Homo sapiens: one gene and its partners. The protein of the gene in region 2 purifies or fractionates together with the protein of the main gene of each other region. This does not show direct contact. Each region holds a gene or a part of one and is shown on either strand. Other genes may lie near its edges.

Region 1 (4,514 bases), on a different chromosome or scaffold from region 2:
TGCCACTGCACTCCAGCCTGGGAGACAAAGCAAGACTCCATCTCAAAAAAAAAAAAAAAAAAAAAGTCAATCACTTCAAAACACAAATCTATTTTTTCATTCAATTTTACTGCTTTCCAACTTTTCTCATGGCATGCTAAATGTATGGCTCCTTTTATTTTTACAGTGCTTTATGCCTCACAAAGTGAATTATCTGATTTATGGCTTGCAACAACCCTGTGACCTAACAAGGAAAATATGATTCTTTTTTAACAATATAAAGTTCATAGCTAGTGAGGGCAGGGGGCTGAGTTTTTAACTCTGGTCTTCTAATTCCATCTGTTAATGTTATTCTTGTGTTCTTGTTGTTGTTGCTTTTGTTTTGTGCACTTTCAGTTCATATTTACAAATATGCAGATGATCTGACTCAAGGAAATGTAACTACCTGTTGTATTACTTCACCCAGTCATGGAAACAAGAATAATTTCATTTATAACTGAATTCTTGAATTTTAGTTAGTGTATTATAGAATAATTGGTAAATGTGCTAATGCCTCAGAATATATGTCTCATTCAAAATCAGCTAGAATAATAGGACTGGGTTTTAAAAAAAAAATCTTAAAAGGACCTATGCTGGTGTGATGGCTCACACAGTAATCCTAGCACTGAGAGGCTGAGGCAGGAGGAGAGCTTGAGTCCAGCAGTTCAAGACCAGCCTGGACAACATAGTAAGATCTCATCTCTGAAAAAAAAAAAAAATTAAACAATTAGCCAGGTGTGGTGGCACACACTTATAGTCCCAGCTACTTGGGAGGCTGAGATGAGAGGATCCCTTTAGCCCAGGTGTTCAAGGTTGCAGTGAGCTATAATTGTGCCACTGCACTCCAGCCTGGGCAGCAGAGTGAGATCCTGTCTCTAAAAGAAAAAAAAAAGAGAAAAAAGGACCTATGTGTTCAAGAATTATATGTGATGTTGACATGTTCAAAATTCCTTTTGAAATATCCTATAGACTGTTCTGTTATATGATTTATATATATCCTTAATGATAAGCAACTTATACATGTTGAAATCATAATAGCATTGTTGGAAACTTCCAGGAGTGCTTTTTAGCAAGTATGACAAATAGTCAAAATGAATAAGATCATTTCAAATATGAAAAGAGGTAACACAAAAATAATAAGACCAGTTTATTTTTGTACTTAATGAATTGGCTATTAACAGCTACTCAAGAGTCTGAGGTAGGTAGGAGGAGGTAGGAAGACAGCTTGAGACCAGGAGTTAGAGTCCAGCCTGGGCAACATAATGAGACCCCATCTTTCAAGCAAATAAATAAAATATTTTAAAAAATAAATAAATAAAATTATCCCATCCCCTTTGATATTCTAGTTCAAAATTTCAAGTAGTGATTTTTGCATATAAATATGTATTTTTTTATTTATACCATTACAGTACATGTATTAATATAGCTTTCTTACTTTTATCATTTTGAAAGAAACTTATAGATACAATGCATTCCTTTTGTACATCCAAAAGGACCTGGATAGTGAGAAAGAAGCAGACTGAATTGAGAGGAATTATATATAAAGTAATAAAAGGAGCAAATTTTTAAAAATGTAGATGGTTCTGTCCTAACAGGATTCCCTCCTGCTCTTGTATAACAGAACCATTCACATTAACCACTAAATATTTAGTACTTAAGGAAGTTGAGGAAGCTCAGAAGGGAAGTTGTTCTATAAATTTAGAAGACTGACTGACAGGAAAATTGTAGAGTGAGCTATGATGCGTTCTTGAGTAAAATTCCATGGAGAATTTCCATTCTTTATTTTGCTTCATTATTTTTATACTGTCTTTCATATATACAAATGATGCTCTTGGAATTGTTTTTCTCCTGGTGATACTATTGACTCAGCCTCAGTGGAGAGAATTCAGTCCTATGTCTGCTTAGGTATAAAAAGCAAACGATGTTTTCAGTTCTAAACTAGTTTAATAACACATTTGGCAAGTTCTGTTTCTTCAGATATTAGACATTTATTGAGTGCTCTTTTGTTTCAGTCTCAAATGATATGATATTTACATAGCAGGTAAATTGAGATGATTCTCTGTCCTAAATTTATGGGGGGTTTTTTTATGCAGAAAAAAGTCACGTTAAATGGTTTCTTGGACACGCTTATGTCAGATCCTCCCCCGCAGTGTCTGGTCTGGTTGCCTCTTCTGCATCGACTAGCAAATGTGGAAAATGGTGAGTAGTTACTAAGGAGCAAAGGTGATTTTTTAAATTATTGAAATTAGGCCATTAGTTCTACAGTTAGTAAGCCCAGGCTGTTGTTTTAGGGAAGCCTATTTAGTGGCTCTTAGTTTTGTTTAGGGTAGAACTAACCCATCTCCCTGTTCGGGAAGGCCTTAAAGGACCACTGAAAAATTAGGACTGTCAGTTCCAAAAATAAATCTCATGGTCTTCTTCTCAATTACAAGTCAGGTGTGGTTAAAAGACTTGGCACGATAGAAGGCGAACTTCAACAAGGAGTGTGACATTATTTTGTATTTGTTTTAGATCCGAATTTCTCATATTTGCATACACGGTACTGATTATTTCTTCCCAGGCACTCAGCCAGAAATAGGTGGGAGAAATGAGAAAAAAAAATAGATGATAGCACCCTGTTAATCTTTAGTCATATGTTCCAGATTGTGAGCTTTCAATAGTTGTACTTACGTTAAAGATAAGAGTAAAATAACTTTCGTATCATGTCTTTTTTTAAAGCAAGTATTTCTAGGATAAAAGGAACTACTGTTGGCATATCCAGATTTAAATATGAAATACCATTTGGGGCAAAATTTACAGAAAATTAAACATGGAGCAGTTCAGTGCCTCCATCTAATCTTTAGGTGTTCCTACTTATTGTTCAATGTAACTCTGAAATTTCTCCAGACTTGACGAGGAAATAATTTAGTCTCTATCTCTTACTGAGATTTAACTTAAGTCTCTATATATTACTCAACTTCTGTGTATTTCTTTAATATACATTGCAGCTAAAGTTAGCTTAATTTTAAATTATCATTCAGAATTTTTAGCATCTGCCCTTATTTATCTGTTAGTTAGAAGTTATGAATTTATCCTGTTTTTCTCATGGAGAAAATTTAAAGAATGAATTTATTTTATTTTTTTGCAATCACTAACAATCATAGTTTTTTTATGTTTATCCATATGCAGAAGCGAAGAGCAATCAAGGTCCATGTTATTATGCAAAATGAGTTCACGTTACTGTTTACAGTTCTAGAACTAGTCATTTTCCAATCATAAAGCTATAATTTCTTTCGTTCTCTCTCAGCATTTCCTGCTGCAGGAGATCAGTTTCTTAGGCACCATCCCAGAACAGTTGTCCCTAGATTGAAGTCCCACTCTAGTCTTTCTCAAGAGCCGGGAAGAAAGGTTATGACACTTGTTTAGAAGACAATGCGTCCAGAGCTAGTTATGTCTTTGTTTTTACACTTTGCTTTTTATCTTCATTTATTATTATTTTCATTGTTTTTCCTGACTGGTTAGGCCGGAGAATAGCTTTACCAAAGGCAAGAATTGTTATTGTTGTTTTAGTATCTAGCTCATAGCATGTAGACAATTACTTGGATTTGATCACTTAAATCTAATATTTTACTTTGCTTCAAATCTAGTATTTTGCTTTGCCTGCTTTATAATTCAAATTTCCTACCAAAGAAAGTTAACCGTCTCTTGAGGCATTTGAATTATTTAGAACTGTTTTCAGATAATTTGCACATCTTTTTTAGGGCCCTATACACCTGCCTCAGGAAAGAAAAAAAAATCTGTTTGTCAGATGTAGGCAACACCACTCGTTAAGTAAGCCATTAGTCACTCTATTTTTTAAAAAATAACTTAATTATCTCATCCACACCAGTTTTCCATTCTCTGCCCATCTTCCTTTCTTTTTTCTTCCTCTCATTCTCCGTGTCTCTGATATTCGCTCTCTTCCCACTGGACAATCAGCATTCACCCCTTGTGCTTCTGAGTCTTCCAGTGAGCTGTGCTGGTCTCCTGGAGACAGAGAGCAGTTTGGGGTAAAGGCAAGTCTGTTTGGCTAATTTAAATTCTTGTAATGTGAGAGATGGGAATAGAAAGAGCAAATGGCATTACAGAGATTTTTGTTGTTAAAAGGACACCTCTTCTCCATCCCATTTCATTTCATTTCCCCACAGGCATGATTGAAAAGGGTTGTAAGATTCCAGGAATGAACTAAATGTTTCTCTGAGCCCAAATCAACTATCATCTGAAATCGTGGTGCAGAGAAGAAAGGTGCAATTCCTGTAAGGCTGTATTTTTCCTTCTTCTGGTTCATACTTTTGTTTTCTTGGTTTTTCTTCACTTACTTCCCCCTTAGTCTTCCATCCGGTTGAGTGTTCCTACTGCCACAGTGAGAGTATGATGGGATTTCGCTACCGATGCCAACAGTGTCACAATTACCAGCTCTGTCAGGACTGCTTCTGGAGGGGACATGCCGGTGGTTCTCATAGCAACCAGCACCAAAT
Region 2 (5,442 bases):
GGCTGATGGGTGTGTGGACCACCACCCCTCCAATGATCTCCGTCTTGTAGGCCACCTGTGGCTTCTTCTCCAGGGCTGGAGGAGCTGCTAAGCTCTTGAGAACTTCAGTGGTCATGGGTAGGCCCCCACCTTTGGGAACCTGGGGTGAGCGGCAGCAACAATCAATGGGGAACAGAACATTTAGGAAACATGGGGAGCCCAAAACAGAATGGGGCTGCCGTGAGAAAAGCTCATGTGCCAAATTACAGTCAGACTTGCGTGTCCTCCCCAAGCCTTCCACAGTCCAAATCTGAATATGAGCATCTCAACCAGCAACGCCCTCCCCCTACACAGATACAAACTGACTCCAGGAATTTCTTGAGCGCCTACTTATGAGCCAGCCCTTCCCTGGCTAGAAACCAAAGATAAAGTGTCAAGCGAAACACACGTGGGTCCCCACCTTCACGGCACTTACATGCTAGTAGGGGGAATGACAAAAAAAAACGTAAAACAAACAGAGTAATTACAAATGGTGGTGAGTGGCACAAAGAAGATCAAGAGAGCTGAGGCAGCGCACAGCAGGGGACCTGCTGGAAACAGAGTGGGCAGGGAGGTCTCTAGAGGAGAAGGCAGGGAGACACTCAAACGGCAACCTGGAGGGTAAGCAGGAGATGGGGGCCAGGTCCGGGGCCTCACACCTGTAACCCCAGCACTTTGGGAGGCCAAGGCAGGAGGGTCACTTGAGCCCAGGAGTTCAAGACCAGCCTGGGGAACATAGTGAGATCCCATCTCTACTAAAAATGAAAAAAAAAATTAGCCAGGTGTGGTAGCACACAGCTGCTCAACAGGCCAAGGTAGGAGAATCTCTTGAGCCCAGGAATTGGAGGCTGAAGTGAGCTATAATCACACCACTGTACTCCAGGCTAGGTGACAGAGACCCTGTCTCGAAAAAAATACAAAATAAAAAACTAAATAAAAGGAACCAGGAACATGAAGCTGGGAGAAGGCATTCTGGGCAGATTGAACAGGTAAAAATGCATGCATGCCTTTGTAGAGACAGAACAAGGGGTCCATGAAGTCTGGAGCCAGAAGATGTGTGGTATAACCCTTCACCTCTCACGAACCACCTGAGAGACCTTTGGCAACCATCAAACCTTTCTAGGCCTAAACCGTCTCATGCATAAAATGAAAAGTGGAATAATATTTATCATAACCATCGTTGTGGTTATCAAATGATAGAGTATATTAAATGCTTTAGAAACACAACTAAAAAGAAAAACATATTACAAAATATTATAATTAAGGCTTCCCACGTTGTTACTAATAATTATACACAGAGCCCTTTTGGAAGAATGAGCTATCTTTGCTCTTCCTTGACAGAGATATGGTACCACAGCTGATCAAATCATCATAAAATTTTTATTGTTAGTTGGAAATCACAGGCCAGAGGTTGCAAATTGGTGGCCCACCCACTGACTTTGCCCAAACAATGTTTTGTTAGTCACATGCAGTATTTTTTAAAATCTGCATCTAAGTTTTGGGATATTTCACAGAAAAATCCAGATTTTCAGCTATGCAGCAGTTCCCTTTTAGATAGAAAATACATTGTGTTTGCACAGTCCCTACCATTCTCCCCAGCAGAACGGGAGAGGCCAGGGGTCAAATGTCACTTATCCTCATTCCTGTTGCCCTGTTTCCTCCTCCTTGCCCACTTCACTCATTTATACTAGAGTCTGCAAATGCTGAGGAAATCTTTCATTTTGTTAGAAAGAAAAAAAAAAAAAGAGGTCCAGAACAGTTGAGTCATTTACCCAAAGCCAGGATTAACAGCTGAATGTCGGCCAGGCACAGTGGCTCATGCCTATAATCCCAGCACTTTGGGAGGCCGAGGCGGGCGGATCACCTGAGGTCGGGAGTTCGAGACTAGCCTGACCAATATAGTGAAATTCCGTCTCTACTAAAAATACAAAAATTAGCTGGGCGTAGTGGCGGGCACCTGTAACCCCAGCTACTCAGGAGGCTGAGGCAGGAGAATCGCTTGAACCCAGAAGGCAGAGGTTGCAGTGAGCCGAGATCACGCCATTGCACTCCAGCCTGGGCTATAGAGCGAGACTCCGTTTCAAAACAAAAACAAAACAAAAAAACAGCTGAATGTCTACTAAACTCTGACTTCCCACCAGTGCCCCAGCATCACAATGCCCCACCTTCAGGAGAACGCAACACCCTACATCTATCTGCCGGGACGTCACCGGGACTTCGAGAGAAAAGCTAAGGTCCTCTCCCACTTCTACAGCTTTCAGAGTAAGAAAGACCTAAGGATCCGAGCTCAGAGCTATATGACAGCCCTGTCATTTGGTGTCTGTTCAAAACAATAAGAGCACCCTGATTATGCTGGGCCCCCACAAAGACAACGAGACCTTCTCTTCCTGGACTGCACACTCAGTTTACATAGACAAGGACGTCCTCTGCCCCCTCCCTACCCCTCCAAATCAGGCCAGAAATTCCGCCTTCTATTTTCTTTCTGGCTGAGAGATACCAGCAGTTACAGTTTCTCTGGGCCACCATTCAGTGCCAGGCAATGCACTGATAAGCTCTTTGCTGCATTATCACTAATCTTATCAACCAGGCATGATTTTCTCCACTTTATAGATGAGGTCAACTCAAGCTCATTAAAATTAAGTGATTTGGCTCTAGGACTGCCTGACTCCTTGTTGCTGCATGTCACGACCTACCTAAGCTACTCTTTCTCACTTTCTGTGAGTTCTGTTATTATGTAACCACATTTTTAGGGATGTTGATTTTTAGTTGATATTTAGTGATTAAAATCACCATGGAACTGCAGAAATTTCCCCTAAATGACCCAGATGAATTCCTGAAACCCAGCAAAGAAGGAGGGAAATAACAATTTTTTTTTTTTTTTTTTTGAGATGGAGTCTTGCTCTGTCGCCCAGGCTGGAGTGCAGTGGCGCGATCTCGGCTCACTGCAATCTCCAGCTCCTGGGTTCAAGTGATTCTCCTGCCTCAGCCTCCCAAGTAGCTGGGATTACGGTGCATGCCAACATGCCCAGCTAGTTTTTATATTTTTAGTAGAGACGGGGTTTCACCATGTTAGCCAGGCTGGTCTCGAACTCCTGACCTTGTGATCCACCCGCCTCAGCCTCCCAAAGTGCTGGGATTACAGGCGTGAGCCACCGCGCCTGGCCAGAAAGTAACTTTTTAGAGTTCCCAGTGGCCAGAAAAGGAGGCACAGAAGCTTGGCTGCTGTGTTTCCTCTCAAAATCCCGAAGAACACTGTTTGTCAGTGCTTATGCTCCGGTGTCATGCAGTGCTTCAGATCAACATGCAGAGCCTTTCCAAAGCTGTTTACACTACCTGAGACTTCTTTAAGAGATGGGCTTTCACTCTGTTGCCTAGGCTGAAGTACAGTGGTGCGATCATAACTCCCTGCAGCCTCAAACTTCTGGGCTCAAGTGATCCTCCTGCCTCAGCCTCCTAAGTAGCTGGGAATACAGGTGTAAGCCACCAGGCCTGGCTAATTTTTTTATTTTTTATTTTTTTTGAGGTGGAGTTTCACTCTTGTCGCCCAGGCTGGAATGCAATGGCACGATCTCGGCTCACTGCAACCTCTGCCTCCCAGGTTCAAGTGATTCTCCTGCCTCAGCCTCCTGAGTAGCTGGGACTACAGGCGTGTGCCACCACGCCCAGCTAATTTTGTATTTTTAGTAGAGACGGGGTTTCACTATGTTGGCCACAGGTGATCCACCCACCTCGGCCTCCCAAAGTGCTGGAATTACAAGCGTGAGCCACTGCACCCAGCCATCCATCCTCTCTCTTTTCATCACTCTCTCTTTTCACGGGTTTACCAAGGTTTATCAGAATAAGAAGCTAATCAGCAAAAGTGCTTATAGGAGACTCAATTACACTCAGGTTGGGTCTAGCAATATGAATACTATATACGTGTACAAATTTCTTCTATACAGTTGTTCACAGGAACCCTGAGAAATCTGGGAGGATAATTTGCTGCAGCATGTAATAGTCACTACTGGAAGCCCCTCAAACATAAGCATTTCTGACTGTATGATACAGAAACAAACTTTTCAGCAAAGAAGCCATGATCTATATAAGCCAGGAGTCTGCCTGTCTTATTGATTAAAAGTCTAGTTTTTTCCAAAACATAGTTTCCCCTCTCCATCCTTCCTACCCTTCTTCCTTTCTTTTTCTATATCTCTAAGGAAAAAGAAAGGAATTCTTCATTAGCCAACTCAAGGAAAAAGAGCACACTCGTAGGACAGTCCATGAACGAGCTCTGTGATGCTTTTAAACAGAAGGCTTTTCTAGGACAGGGAGGCGGATGGCTTGGACTGACCCTGCAGGCAGCCTCTGAAAGTAAGAAGAGTATCCCCCAAGCTGGGAAAAAGTTCTGACTTCCCTCCCCATATGCTTTTCCCCTTACTTGACTTTTCACAGTCACCAATCCATTTTCCAATCCTACCACATTCTGAATCAGCATCCCAGAATCACCCGAAACATGACTGATCGGGAGCCCTCCCAGGAAGCACAAAGGGGACGCTCCATGAACTTCCCCTTGAACTTGATTCAAACTCAGACTCTCAGTTCAACTTGTGTTTGGTCAGCCAAGGAAAAAGACGAGGTGGGAGAGAACTGGGTACAGACCAGGCTCCTGGGAAAGTCCCCGCTGCCATCTCAGTTTTCCCCAACCCCAACAAGGCCATAGCCTGGGAAGAGGCACTTTTACTACCACCAGAAAACAGAAGAAACCAAACTTACGGTGATCTTGCTGGCTTGGTTCAGGGCTTCAACCCAGTCCTTCATATCTTTCTGATCATTGGCTTGAAGGAAATATCTCTGAGACAGGGCATTGATAACTACAAAAGCCACAGAAAAGAAGGGAAGACATTCCTAGGTCAGAATACAAGCAATACAACAAGTCTCCACAAAGCTAAGGTGTTTGAGGGAGTGAGATGAGTGAACTCCACAAAGCAGAACAAGAAATCTCCCATGATGCTAAGTCATTTGCCTGGATATCTAGGAAGCCCCAGGCCACACCTGCTCACTCTCTTTCCCACCTTTAAAAACATCCCATTGGCCACAGGAACAACACCTGACCATGTTAACAGCAGCCTCAGTGTGCTGTTCTGCGGTGATGAGGCTGCTGGTCTGCCGTCAACAAGACACAACTGTGAACCGCATTCTGGCGGTGCTAATACATTTACTGTCATCACGGTATATACAGAATTTTGGACCCATGCTTGGTCTCCTCTGGCACAACTGGTCTGGACTGGGAGAGTTGTCTGTGGTTGGGAAATAGAACAAAGCTTTCCTGAGATCAAATCTGTGACCTTGGCCTCACTCTCAACCTGTTCTTTCCTCTGAGCATTCCATTAGGTCAACAATTTACTTCCACATTCACTATTATTACATATATATATTTTCAGATCTGAT
Region 3 (4,514 bases), on a different chromosome or scaffold from region 2:
ATTCAGAGGACCTGGGGTGGGGGGTGCTGCGATAGTTAGCTATACCCCCACTTTCCATGGCTGCATTCTCCTCCTCCCCACACAACCTCATGTCCGCCTCCGATTGTCACATAACCTCATGTTTGCTTCTTATGTCTGCACAAAACCTCGCCTCCTCCTTTCCTACAATCATGCGCCCCCTCCTTCCTGCACAACGTCGTGGCCTCCCCTCCCTGTGCCACCTCACGTCTCTCTCTCCTCACCGTCGTGCCCACCTCTGATCTTCTGGCAACTTGCTGCCTCTCCTCTCCCTACACCCTCACACTCCCTCTGATCCCCGCACAGCCTCGCGCCCCCTCTTGACCCATACAACCTTGTGTCCCCCCACCCACCTGCCCAGTGGTTCCCAGAAGTGCGGCACCACTGCCCCAGCACACCCATCATCCTGGTGGGCACCAAGCTGGACCTGCGGGACGACAAGGACACCATCGAGAAACTGAAGGAGAAGAAGCTGGCTCCCATCACCTACCCGCAGGGCCTGGCACTGGCCAAGGAGATTGGTATGGGCCTCGGGCTCAGAGGGGCGATCTGGCTGCAGGGGAGGCCCTGACTTGGCCTCGTGGTGTGATTGTAAACACGGGCTGCAGGGCCAGGCTGTGCAGTTTGAACTCAGCTGTGCTGTGCACTTGCTGTGTGACCTTGGGCGAGTCACGTAGCCTCTCTCTGCCTGTGTTTCCTTATCAGAAAAGCATGGGATAGTGATAGCTCCTGCCTCCTGGGGTGGTTGGGGGAATTCAGTAACTTATTCCAGGTGGAGCTGCCAGGGCAGCACCTGTGTGTGAGAAGCACTCTGTGTTAGTAGTAGTCGTCCTAGTAGTATGAGTAGTATCTATTAATAGATACTGAAAATAAGGAGGTGTGCTTTGAGCAGACAGAAGCAGAGATTGAGTGGGGGTGCTGTGGTTGCTTGGAGGACAAGTGGCAAGTCAAACTTGGGTGTTCTGGGAAGGCTTCCTGGAGGAGGTGGCGCTGCATTAGATCTAAAGGGTGACACATTTCCTTCCACCACCTTCTCTCCTCCCTTTCCCCACTCCCTTTGGTTTCTCAGCTCGACCCCTCTTTGCCTCCAAATCACTGGGCTGGAGAAATATAGTAACTTCTCAAGGTCACCCAGCTAGTAGGTGGCCCAGCCAGATTTGAAGGAAGGACAGCAAATTATTGGCTCACTGCTGGGGGGTGCTTCTTTGTAGTGGCTCAGGGCTGCCTGCATCAGGGAGGCGATGACCATGGGTCTGGCTTCATGCATGGTACCCAGGCCTGCTGGCTGTTCCTGTCCCTGTCCCTGGTAGGTCCCAATGTGTCTGTAGCTCAGGGATCCTTGCCCAAAAGCCCAAAACCACCAGCTGGGTTTGGTCATATGAGCTGTGCCCTCTGCCTCACCACAGGACTCTGCAGGCCCAGGGTTTGGCCCCCAAATTGAATCCACTAGACCTCCTCCCGCCCCACCGCCCCAGCCCCGCCCCACCTCCCCCTGCCGGAACTGGGAGGGCCCTGGGGACTCACATCTCTTCACAGGAAGAGAAACCGCAGCCACCACCTCCCTCCTTCTGTGACTAGCGTGGTGACACAGCCATCTTCCCCGGGGGCCTCAGACTATGGCTCACACCCTGGCTCCCTTCCCCTGTCCTAGGGCCACAGCTCCCCAGCCTGCAAGTCTTTCCTTTTAAATATCAAGGATTCATCCCTGCCTTCTCTTTCTGACCAACCAGCACCCCTCCAACCCCTGCCCCTGGACTCCTTCTATTCAGGGTGCAGCTCTCCAGCCTGTGGCCTGGCTGTCACTGACCTCTCCCTTGTAAAGCACATGCTTTGGGATCATGTGGAGGGTGCTGGAGGCCTGGATTCTGGTCCTGGCTCTGATACTGATTGGCTGTGTGACCTTGGGTTAGTGGCTGCCCCTCTCTGGGCCTCAGTCTCCCTCTCCACATAAGCTGACCTGGACAATCCCCAAAGGCCCTCTCTCCTCCATAAGGTGGTGACTCAGAGTTCTTGCCTTGGCCTCTAGCCAGTCTTTCCTGGCTGACCCTGCATGGAGCTGGGGCAGGGGCAGTGATTTTAACTGTGCCTCAGACCAGCTTAGGCCTAGGGGGAGTCCTGGGGGGACTGGCAGGGATAGTGAGGGAAGCAGCAACTGCCTCTGCCCACCTGGACTCCCCAGCCCTGGGATGACAAGTTTTGGGGGCAGCCCTGAGCCCAGCTGATAATCACAGCTGATGTGGACTGAGCACTTCCTGGGAGCCACTTCATTCTCACAGCAGCTATGACGAAGAGCTCTTGTCACCTTCACTTTACAGAGAGGAAACAGGCTCGGGGGGACATGTTGCTGGCTTAAGGCCACCCAGCCAGGATTCTGACAGGGGTGGACTGGCTCCCTAAGCCACAAAGCTGAGGGCCATCTGTCCTCCCTGCACCTCCACTGCCCCCACCGCCCCCTCACCCTCCTTGCCCTCTCTGTAGCTCCCCTGCCCCCTGCCTCAGCTTGATGAGCCATCGCATGGCAATGAGTCCTAGACAGATGGGAGACTGAGGCCCGGAGAGGGGGAACTGACTAAAGTCCTAGAGCAGTGAGAGGCCGAGCCAAAGTGAGCCCTGGCCCCCCAGCTCAGGACCCTTGTCCTGGGTGAGTGGGTGGCTGGGTGCCAGGGAAAAGGCAGTTGGTGGATGTGGGGGAAGTGGACGCAGATGTGGTCCCTTATAAGGAGACAGTGGCCAAGTGCCCAGTGACACCTCCTCAACACAGGGGGCTGTGGTGACCAGACTCCGGGCTGAGCTCAGGGCACCCTGCTCTTGCCAGCCAAGCCCCATGACAACCACTGCCCATGATCCCTGGTGGGCGTATATGCCTCCAGGTAGAGGGGAGACGCCCAGCATGTGACTCAGAGCGAGTGACATCCTCTCTGAGCCTCAGGCTCCTCGTCCCTGCCCCACCCTTCCTTTCTCCCCAGCACCTGGCCTCAGTGGGCTCCCCTGTTCCAGGGGCTGCCCCTCCTGCCATCCCGACTTCTCCCCCCAGCTCTGTGCCTTCGGGCCTTGGCTTCCCCACTCTGGGCCTGTTTCCTGGTCTGTGAAATGGGAACTCACCCCGGTGTTGTTGGAAGCACCCAGCTCAGTGCCTGGCACAGGGTAGGTGGTGACCAGCGTCCATCCCCTTCCATCCTGCCACAGAGAAGCAAGCGGGCTTTGGCGGAGGGCCCAGAGTTCCCCTCCCCTCCCTTCTCCTTCCTCTTGGTTCTGACATCGGCCCCCAGGCCTGCATAGCATCTCGGCAGAAGGGGTTTTGTGGTTTTTCACTTCAGGGAAACTGTGCAGCTTGAAATGGACATGGGAAGTCACACGGACTCTTTGCAGAATGTCATGGAACGCCGTCCCTGGGGGTGGGAACTAGGCCTGCCTTTCTCCTCATCTGTGCCCCGGGCTCTAGCCCTGAGGGGTCTTCATGTGGGAGAAGGCTGGGCCTCCCATGGCAGGACAGAGGAGCTCTCCAATGCCACTCCTCCCAGAAGGCCCCCAGCTGGGCCCAGGTTGAGGGAATACATCCAGCGTGTGAGTTTGGATGAGTCGCATACTCTCCAGGAGCCTCAGTTTCCTTGTCTGTAAGACAGGGACGGTGCTAAGGAAGGGGCTGATGATGTTGGGAAGTTCCTGGGGAGGGGGCCCTGAGGGCTTCAGGCCTCCTGGGGATTATTTGCAACCCTGGGAGAATCCTGGAGGGATGGGCAAGACAATTTTCTAGAAGGTGAGGCTCCCAGAGATTTGGTCACTGATGCTTGAGCCCTTTCCTTCACAGAAAAGCATCAAAATTCCCGCCCTCCTTCCACGGACTAAGGGCTATGTGTCCAAGAAAGACACAGACCTGCCCTGGAGGCCTTAGTCTCTCACTGAGTTCACGCTCGCTATTACAGACATGAGGAAACTGAGGCACGGTGACGTTAAACTCCTTGCTCCTGGTGACACAGCCTCCAGGTGACCCCACTGGGACTGGATGGCGGCCCCCAGAGCCTGGTGTTCAGTTGTATGGCTTGGGAGGGGGTGTACGGCATGGAGGGGTGTATGGCGTGGGAGGGGGTGTATGGGGTGGGAGGGGTTGTATGGCATAGGAGGGGTGTATGGCGTGGGAGGGGTGTATGGTGTGGGAGGCGTGGGAGGGGTATATGGCGTGGGAGGCATGGGAAGGGGTGTATGGCGTGGGAGGGGGTGTATGGCGTGGGAGGGGTGTATGGCATGGGAGGCGTGGGAGGGATGTATGGCGTGGGAGGGGGTGTATGGCGTGGGAGGGCTTGTATGGCATGGGAGGCATGGGAGGAGTGTATGGTGTGGGAGGGGTGTATGGCGTGGGAGGGGTGTATGGCGTGGGAGGGTGTATGGCGTGGGAGGGGTATATGGCGTGGGAGGGGTGTATGGCGTGGGAGGGGTGTATGGCGTGGGAGGCGTGGGAGGGGTGTATGGCATGGGAGGGTGTATGGCGTGGGAGGGGT
Region 4 (4,514 bases), on a different chromosome or scaffold from region 2:
CTACTGTGGTACACAAATCACAATTAATGAACCAATATCGATACAGTATTAGCAACTAAGGTCCAAACTTTATTCAAATGTGCTTGCTTTTTGCCTGACATCCTTTTTCTGTTCCAGGATCCCATCCAGGTTGCCACATGACATTTAGTTTCGTCATGTCTCTTTAGCCTTGAGTTGGCCATGGTAATTCTCAGACTTTCCTTGTTTTTGATGACCTTAATAGTTTTGAGGACTGCTGGCTGGCAGTTTGTACAATGTCTCTCAATTGGGATTTGTCAGATGTTTTCCTCATGATTAAAGTAGGGTTATTGGTTCTTGGGAGGAAGATTTAGAAAGTGCTATTCTTATTGCATCATATCAAGGGTCCCACCAATTGTTTTTCAAAACCCAAATGTGCCAGAAATTACTGGAAGTCAGACCTTGAGCATAGATTTTGCATTGAGAGGTAAGTTATCCACTGTGAAAGTGTCATCAATTTTAAAGTACCATGGTTCTGCTCTTCCTAGTCATGTAAGTCTGAGCAAAGTGCAAAGTACTTCTTACCTCAGTTTCCTCATCTATAAAATGGAGCCAACAATTATACCTTCCTTATAAAGTTGCTATGAGGGTTAAATGTGAAGTGCTTATAACTGCATCGACAGAGTAAATATTCAAAAAATGTTAGCTCATTATTAATCTACTGGAAGAAATGTTTTTTTGTAAAATCAAAAAACAAAAGGAAATCTGTAAGACTTAGGTTCAATAATTTGCTACCTTAAAAATGCCTCTCCTTTGAAATTATTAAGAGCTGTTGAAGCTATAGGAACGTAAGTAAAGTCAGCCCTCTGTATCCACAGACTCAACTAACTGCAAATAAAAAATATCTTTTAAAACCCCAAAAACAGCCAGGTGCAGTGGCTCATACCTGTAAACCCAGCACTTTGGGAGGCTGAGGCAGGAGGATTGCTTGAGGCTAGGAGTTCAATACCAGCCCAGGCAACACAGTGAGACCCCCATATCTATAAAAAATAGAAAAAAAATTTGGCTGGGTGTAGTAGTGTGCACCTGTAGTCCTAGCTACTCAGGAAGATCGCTTGAGCCCAGGAGTTCAAGGCTGCAGTGAGCCATGATTACATCACTGTACTCTAGCCTGGATGACAGAGTAAGATCCTGTCTCAAAAAAAAAAACCAAAAACCAAAAAAATGCCACAATAAAAAGTAAAACAAAATTTAAAATGCAGAATAACAACTATTTACATAGCAATTACACTGTATTAGCTATTAAAAGTAATCTAGAGATGACTTAAGGTACATGGGAGGATGTGCATAGGCTATCTGCAAATACCACACCATTTTATAGAAGAGACTTGACTATCCATGAATGTCGGTATCCATAAGGAGTCCTGGAACCAATCCCTGCCCTGCCCTGATACTGAGGGACGACTATATTTTAGAATAAGAGAAAATGAGAAAATTAAAGGGATATTAGAATGGCAAATCAGCAAAGTACACTTGGTTTTGCAGACTTTTTTTTTTTTTCTTTTTTTTGAGACAGGGTCTTACTCTGTCACCCAGGCTGTAGTGCAGTGGCATGATCACGGCTCACTGCAGCCTCAACCTCCTGGGCTCAAGCAATTCTCTTACCTCAACTTCCCGAGTAGCACACCTATACTATAGGCACGCGCCACCACACCCAGCTAATTTTTTTTTCTTTTTTTCTTTTTTTTGTAGAGATGGGGTTTCACCATGTTGTCCAGACTGGTCTTGAACTCCTGAACTCAAGTGATCTGCCTGCTTCAGCCTCCCAAATTGCTGGGATTACTGCTGTGAGCCACTGTACCTGGCTGCAGGCATTTTATAGTGATGCTTGAAAAACTGGGAAAAATCTTCTTGCCTTATTTTCAGATTATTCTATTCTGTGCTTCTTAGACAATGTTTCCTAAATACCACCACCACACTACTACCACTAACATTGTACTCAGCGCTCACAATGTGCCAAACACTGCTTTCAGGACTTACATACATTTTCTCATTTAATCCTTACCTAAACCTATGAAGTTAGTATCATTATTATTCTTGTCCTACAGATGAGGAAACTGATGCACACAGAAATTATGTTAACTTGCTCAGAGACACACTTAAGTAGAACCAGGACTGAGAAATCCAACTCCAGAGCACACAATGAACTTGTACAGTAGATACCAAGAGAATACAAAGGCAGACCTCCTGCATTTTAACTCTATGCTATTCCTGACTGCACAACCTGGGGCAAGCCACTTAACCTCCCTGCATTTCTGTTTCTTCATTTATAAATTTGGATGTCACTTTTTTAAAAAAAGTCAAATTTAAGACATCACTAGTTCTCAATCTTATTTTATGGACTCTAAGAAAAACTGCTGGCAATTATAACTGTATGGTGCCATATCATAAGACATAGCCCTCAGAGATGTTAAAATGTACATCTTATAATCTATGAAATCCAGTAGTATCTATCTCACAGTGTTGTTTGAGAAACTAATTTATATATGTGAATGCTTAGAACAGTCTGGTCCTGGTAAGTGCTGCATGAGTATGAGGTAGTGTTACTATTATTATTACTTCATTCACTTGATTACTCACGATGTAGCAAACATTCTAACACATTCAACACTCATAGGAAGTTCTTTGGACCTGAACTCTCAGTTTTTCTAATGTGAATAGACTATAGGCCGCACAGACTATGGGCCACAGAGAAAGTAAACTCCATTCTTCACTGATTTGTATTTGTCTTAAACATCCTTTTAGAAGTCAAACAAGCACGGTATCTGGGTGATGCAGGCTAAGACGTACAGCACTACACAGTGCTATGATGCTTCCTACCACTCACATGATTTCTTGCAAAAACCATGTCAACTTTCACCATGATTACTATTAAATATATGCAGTACTTGTGAAGGGCATTTTGGCCAATCACAATCTTTTTCTAGGGCGTGCTGTGACTTTCTTAACCAGTTTCCTTTGTGAATGACGGCCTGAATGCTGTTCTTTTTTCTTTTTTTAATTATACTTTAAGTTGTAGGGTACATGTGCACAACGTGCAGGTTTGTTACCGAGGTATACATGTGCCATGTTGGTTTGCTGCACCCATCAACTCGTCATTTACATTAGGTATTTCTCCTAATGCTATCCCTCCCCCAGTCCCCCACCCCACGATAGGCCCCAGTGTGTGATGTTCCCTGCCCTGTGTCCAAGTGTTCTCATTGTTCAATTCCCACCTATGAGTGAAAATATGCAGTGTCTGGTTTTCTGTCCTTGTGACAGTTTGCTCAGAATGATGGTTTCCAGCTTCATCCATGTCCCTGCGAAGGACATGAACTCATCCTTTTTTATGGCTGCATAGTATTCCATGGTGTATATGTGCCATATTTTCTTAATTCAGTCTATCATTGATGGACATTTGAGTTGATTCCAAGTCTTTACTATTGTGAGTAGTGCCGCAGTAAACATACATGTGCATGTGTCTTCATAGCAGCATGATTTATAATCCTTTGGGTACATACCCAGTAATGGGATCGCTGGGTCAAATGGTATTTCTATTCTAGATCCTTGAGGAATCGCCACACTGTCTTCCACAATGGTTAAACTAATTTACACTCTCACCAACAGTGTAAAAGCATTCCTATTTCTCCACATCCTCTCCAGCATCTGTTGTTTCCTGACTTTCTAATGATCGCCACTGAATGAAGCTGTTAACAACAACTAACCTGCCACTCAGTCTCACCACTTGGAAGGTGAGACTGACTCAGGTGTTTGTAACTCTAGCACCTCTGGTCATATGTGTGTATATATAGTCATTAATTTATTTCTTAATAAATACCTACTAAGCTACTCTGAGTCAGGTGCTGCAGGGAAACCAATACTGAAAAAGCATAGTGTGATTGATGCTGGCAGAAACACGGCTGTAGAAAACCTGGACCTACTGGGTTCCGAGGTGAGAAGATGTTATTTTTTTAGAGTTAATAGATTGGTTTTACTAGCAACTTTGCTGGATGTCAGAGAAAAGTAATTCTACGGTATAAACTTCATATACATTTTGCTTAATATAATACTCCCTTTAAATACAGTTTTAGAGGCTATTACAGAATTTCAGAATAGGGAAGTACAATCTGGTCCAACTTCATTTTTGACATAGGAAAGTAAAAACCAAAAGGTAAAGGTTTTTGAATCAAGACAAATGTTTACTAAACATGTACTTACTATAGATTATATGCTATGAACTATGGCATATATAGGTACTGGGGATACTGAGACAGGAAAGGAATAGGTGTTAAGTGTGATACTGGAGCTGCAGCAAGGACATTGCATATATAGACGAGGAAGCAATGGATTTTGTGGATCACAGAGATGACCAGGAAGGCTAAAGGGAGGAGCTGATATTTATGCTACTGTTTTATTTATTTTTGCTACTCTTGCAGTTTAGACCACGTGGAGTGCCCACTGTAACCATTCAGACCTTTTCAAAAAAGCCTTTCACCAACAATATTGTTGGTGAGTCA

The links. The genes of interacting proteins can lie anywhere in the genome.
Region 1: the proteins of PLEKHA2 (region 2) and DTNA purify together in Homo sapiens (affinity purification with mass spectrometry; one large-scale study listed by BioGRID and IntAct). This does not show direct contact.
Region 3: the proteins of PLEKHA2 (region 2) and RAC2 purify together in Homo sapiens (affinity purification with mass spectrometry, with the first as the bait; one large-scale study listed by BioGRID). This does not show direct contact.
Region 4: the proteins of PLEKHA2 (region 2) and RALA purify together in Homo sapiens (affinity purification with mass spectrometry, with the first as the bait; one large-scale study listed by BioGRID). This does not show direct contact.

The regions. Positions count from the first base shown.
Region 1 is NC_000018.10:34,813,798-34,818,311, forward strand, and holds part of DTNA (dystrobrevin alpha), read left to right. Parts: intron 1-2,111; coding exon 2,112-2,217; intron 2,218-4,164; exon of another isoform or gene 4,165-4,366; coding exon 4,367-4,514. UniProt on the Homo sapiens protein: May be involved in the formation and stability of synapses as well as being involved in the clustering of nicotinic acetylcholine receptors.
Region 2 is NC_000008.11:38,945,547-38,950,988, reverse strand, and holds part of PLEKHA2 (pleckstrin homology domain-containing family A member 2), read right to left. Parts: intron 4,866-5,442; coding exon 4,768-4,865; intron 140-4,767; coding exon 1-139. UniProt on the Homo sapiens protein: Binds specifically to phosphatidylinositol 3,4-diphosphate (PtdIns3,4P2), but not to other phosphoinositides. May recruit other proteins to the plasma membrane.
Region 3 is NC_000022.11:37,227,256-37,231,769, reverse strand, and holds part of RAC2 (ras-related C3 botulinum toxin substrate 2), read left to right. Parts: intron 1-379; coding exon 380-539; intron 540-3,826; coding exon of another isoform or gene 3,827-3,864; exon of another isoform or gene 3,865-4,031; intron 4,032-4,514. UniProt on the Homo sapiens protein: Plasma membrane-associated small GTPase which cycles between an active GTP-bound and inactive GDP-bound state.
Region 4 is NC_000007.14:39,692,072-39,696,585, reverse strand, and holds part of RALA (ras-related protein Ral-A precursor), read right to left. Parts: intron 1-4,514. UniProt on the Homo sapiens protein: Multifunctional GTPase involved in a variety of cellular processes including gene expression, cell migration, cell proliferation, oncogenic transformation and membrane trafficking.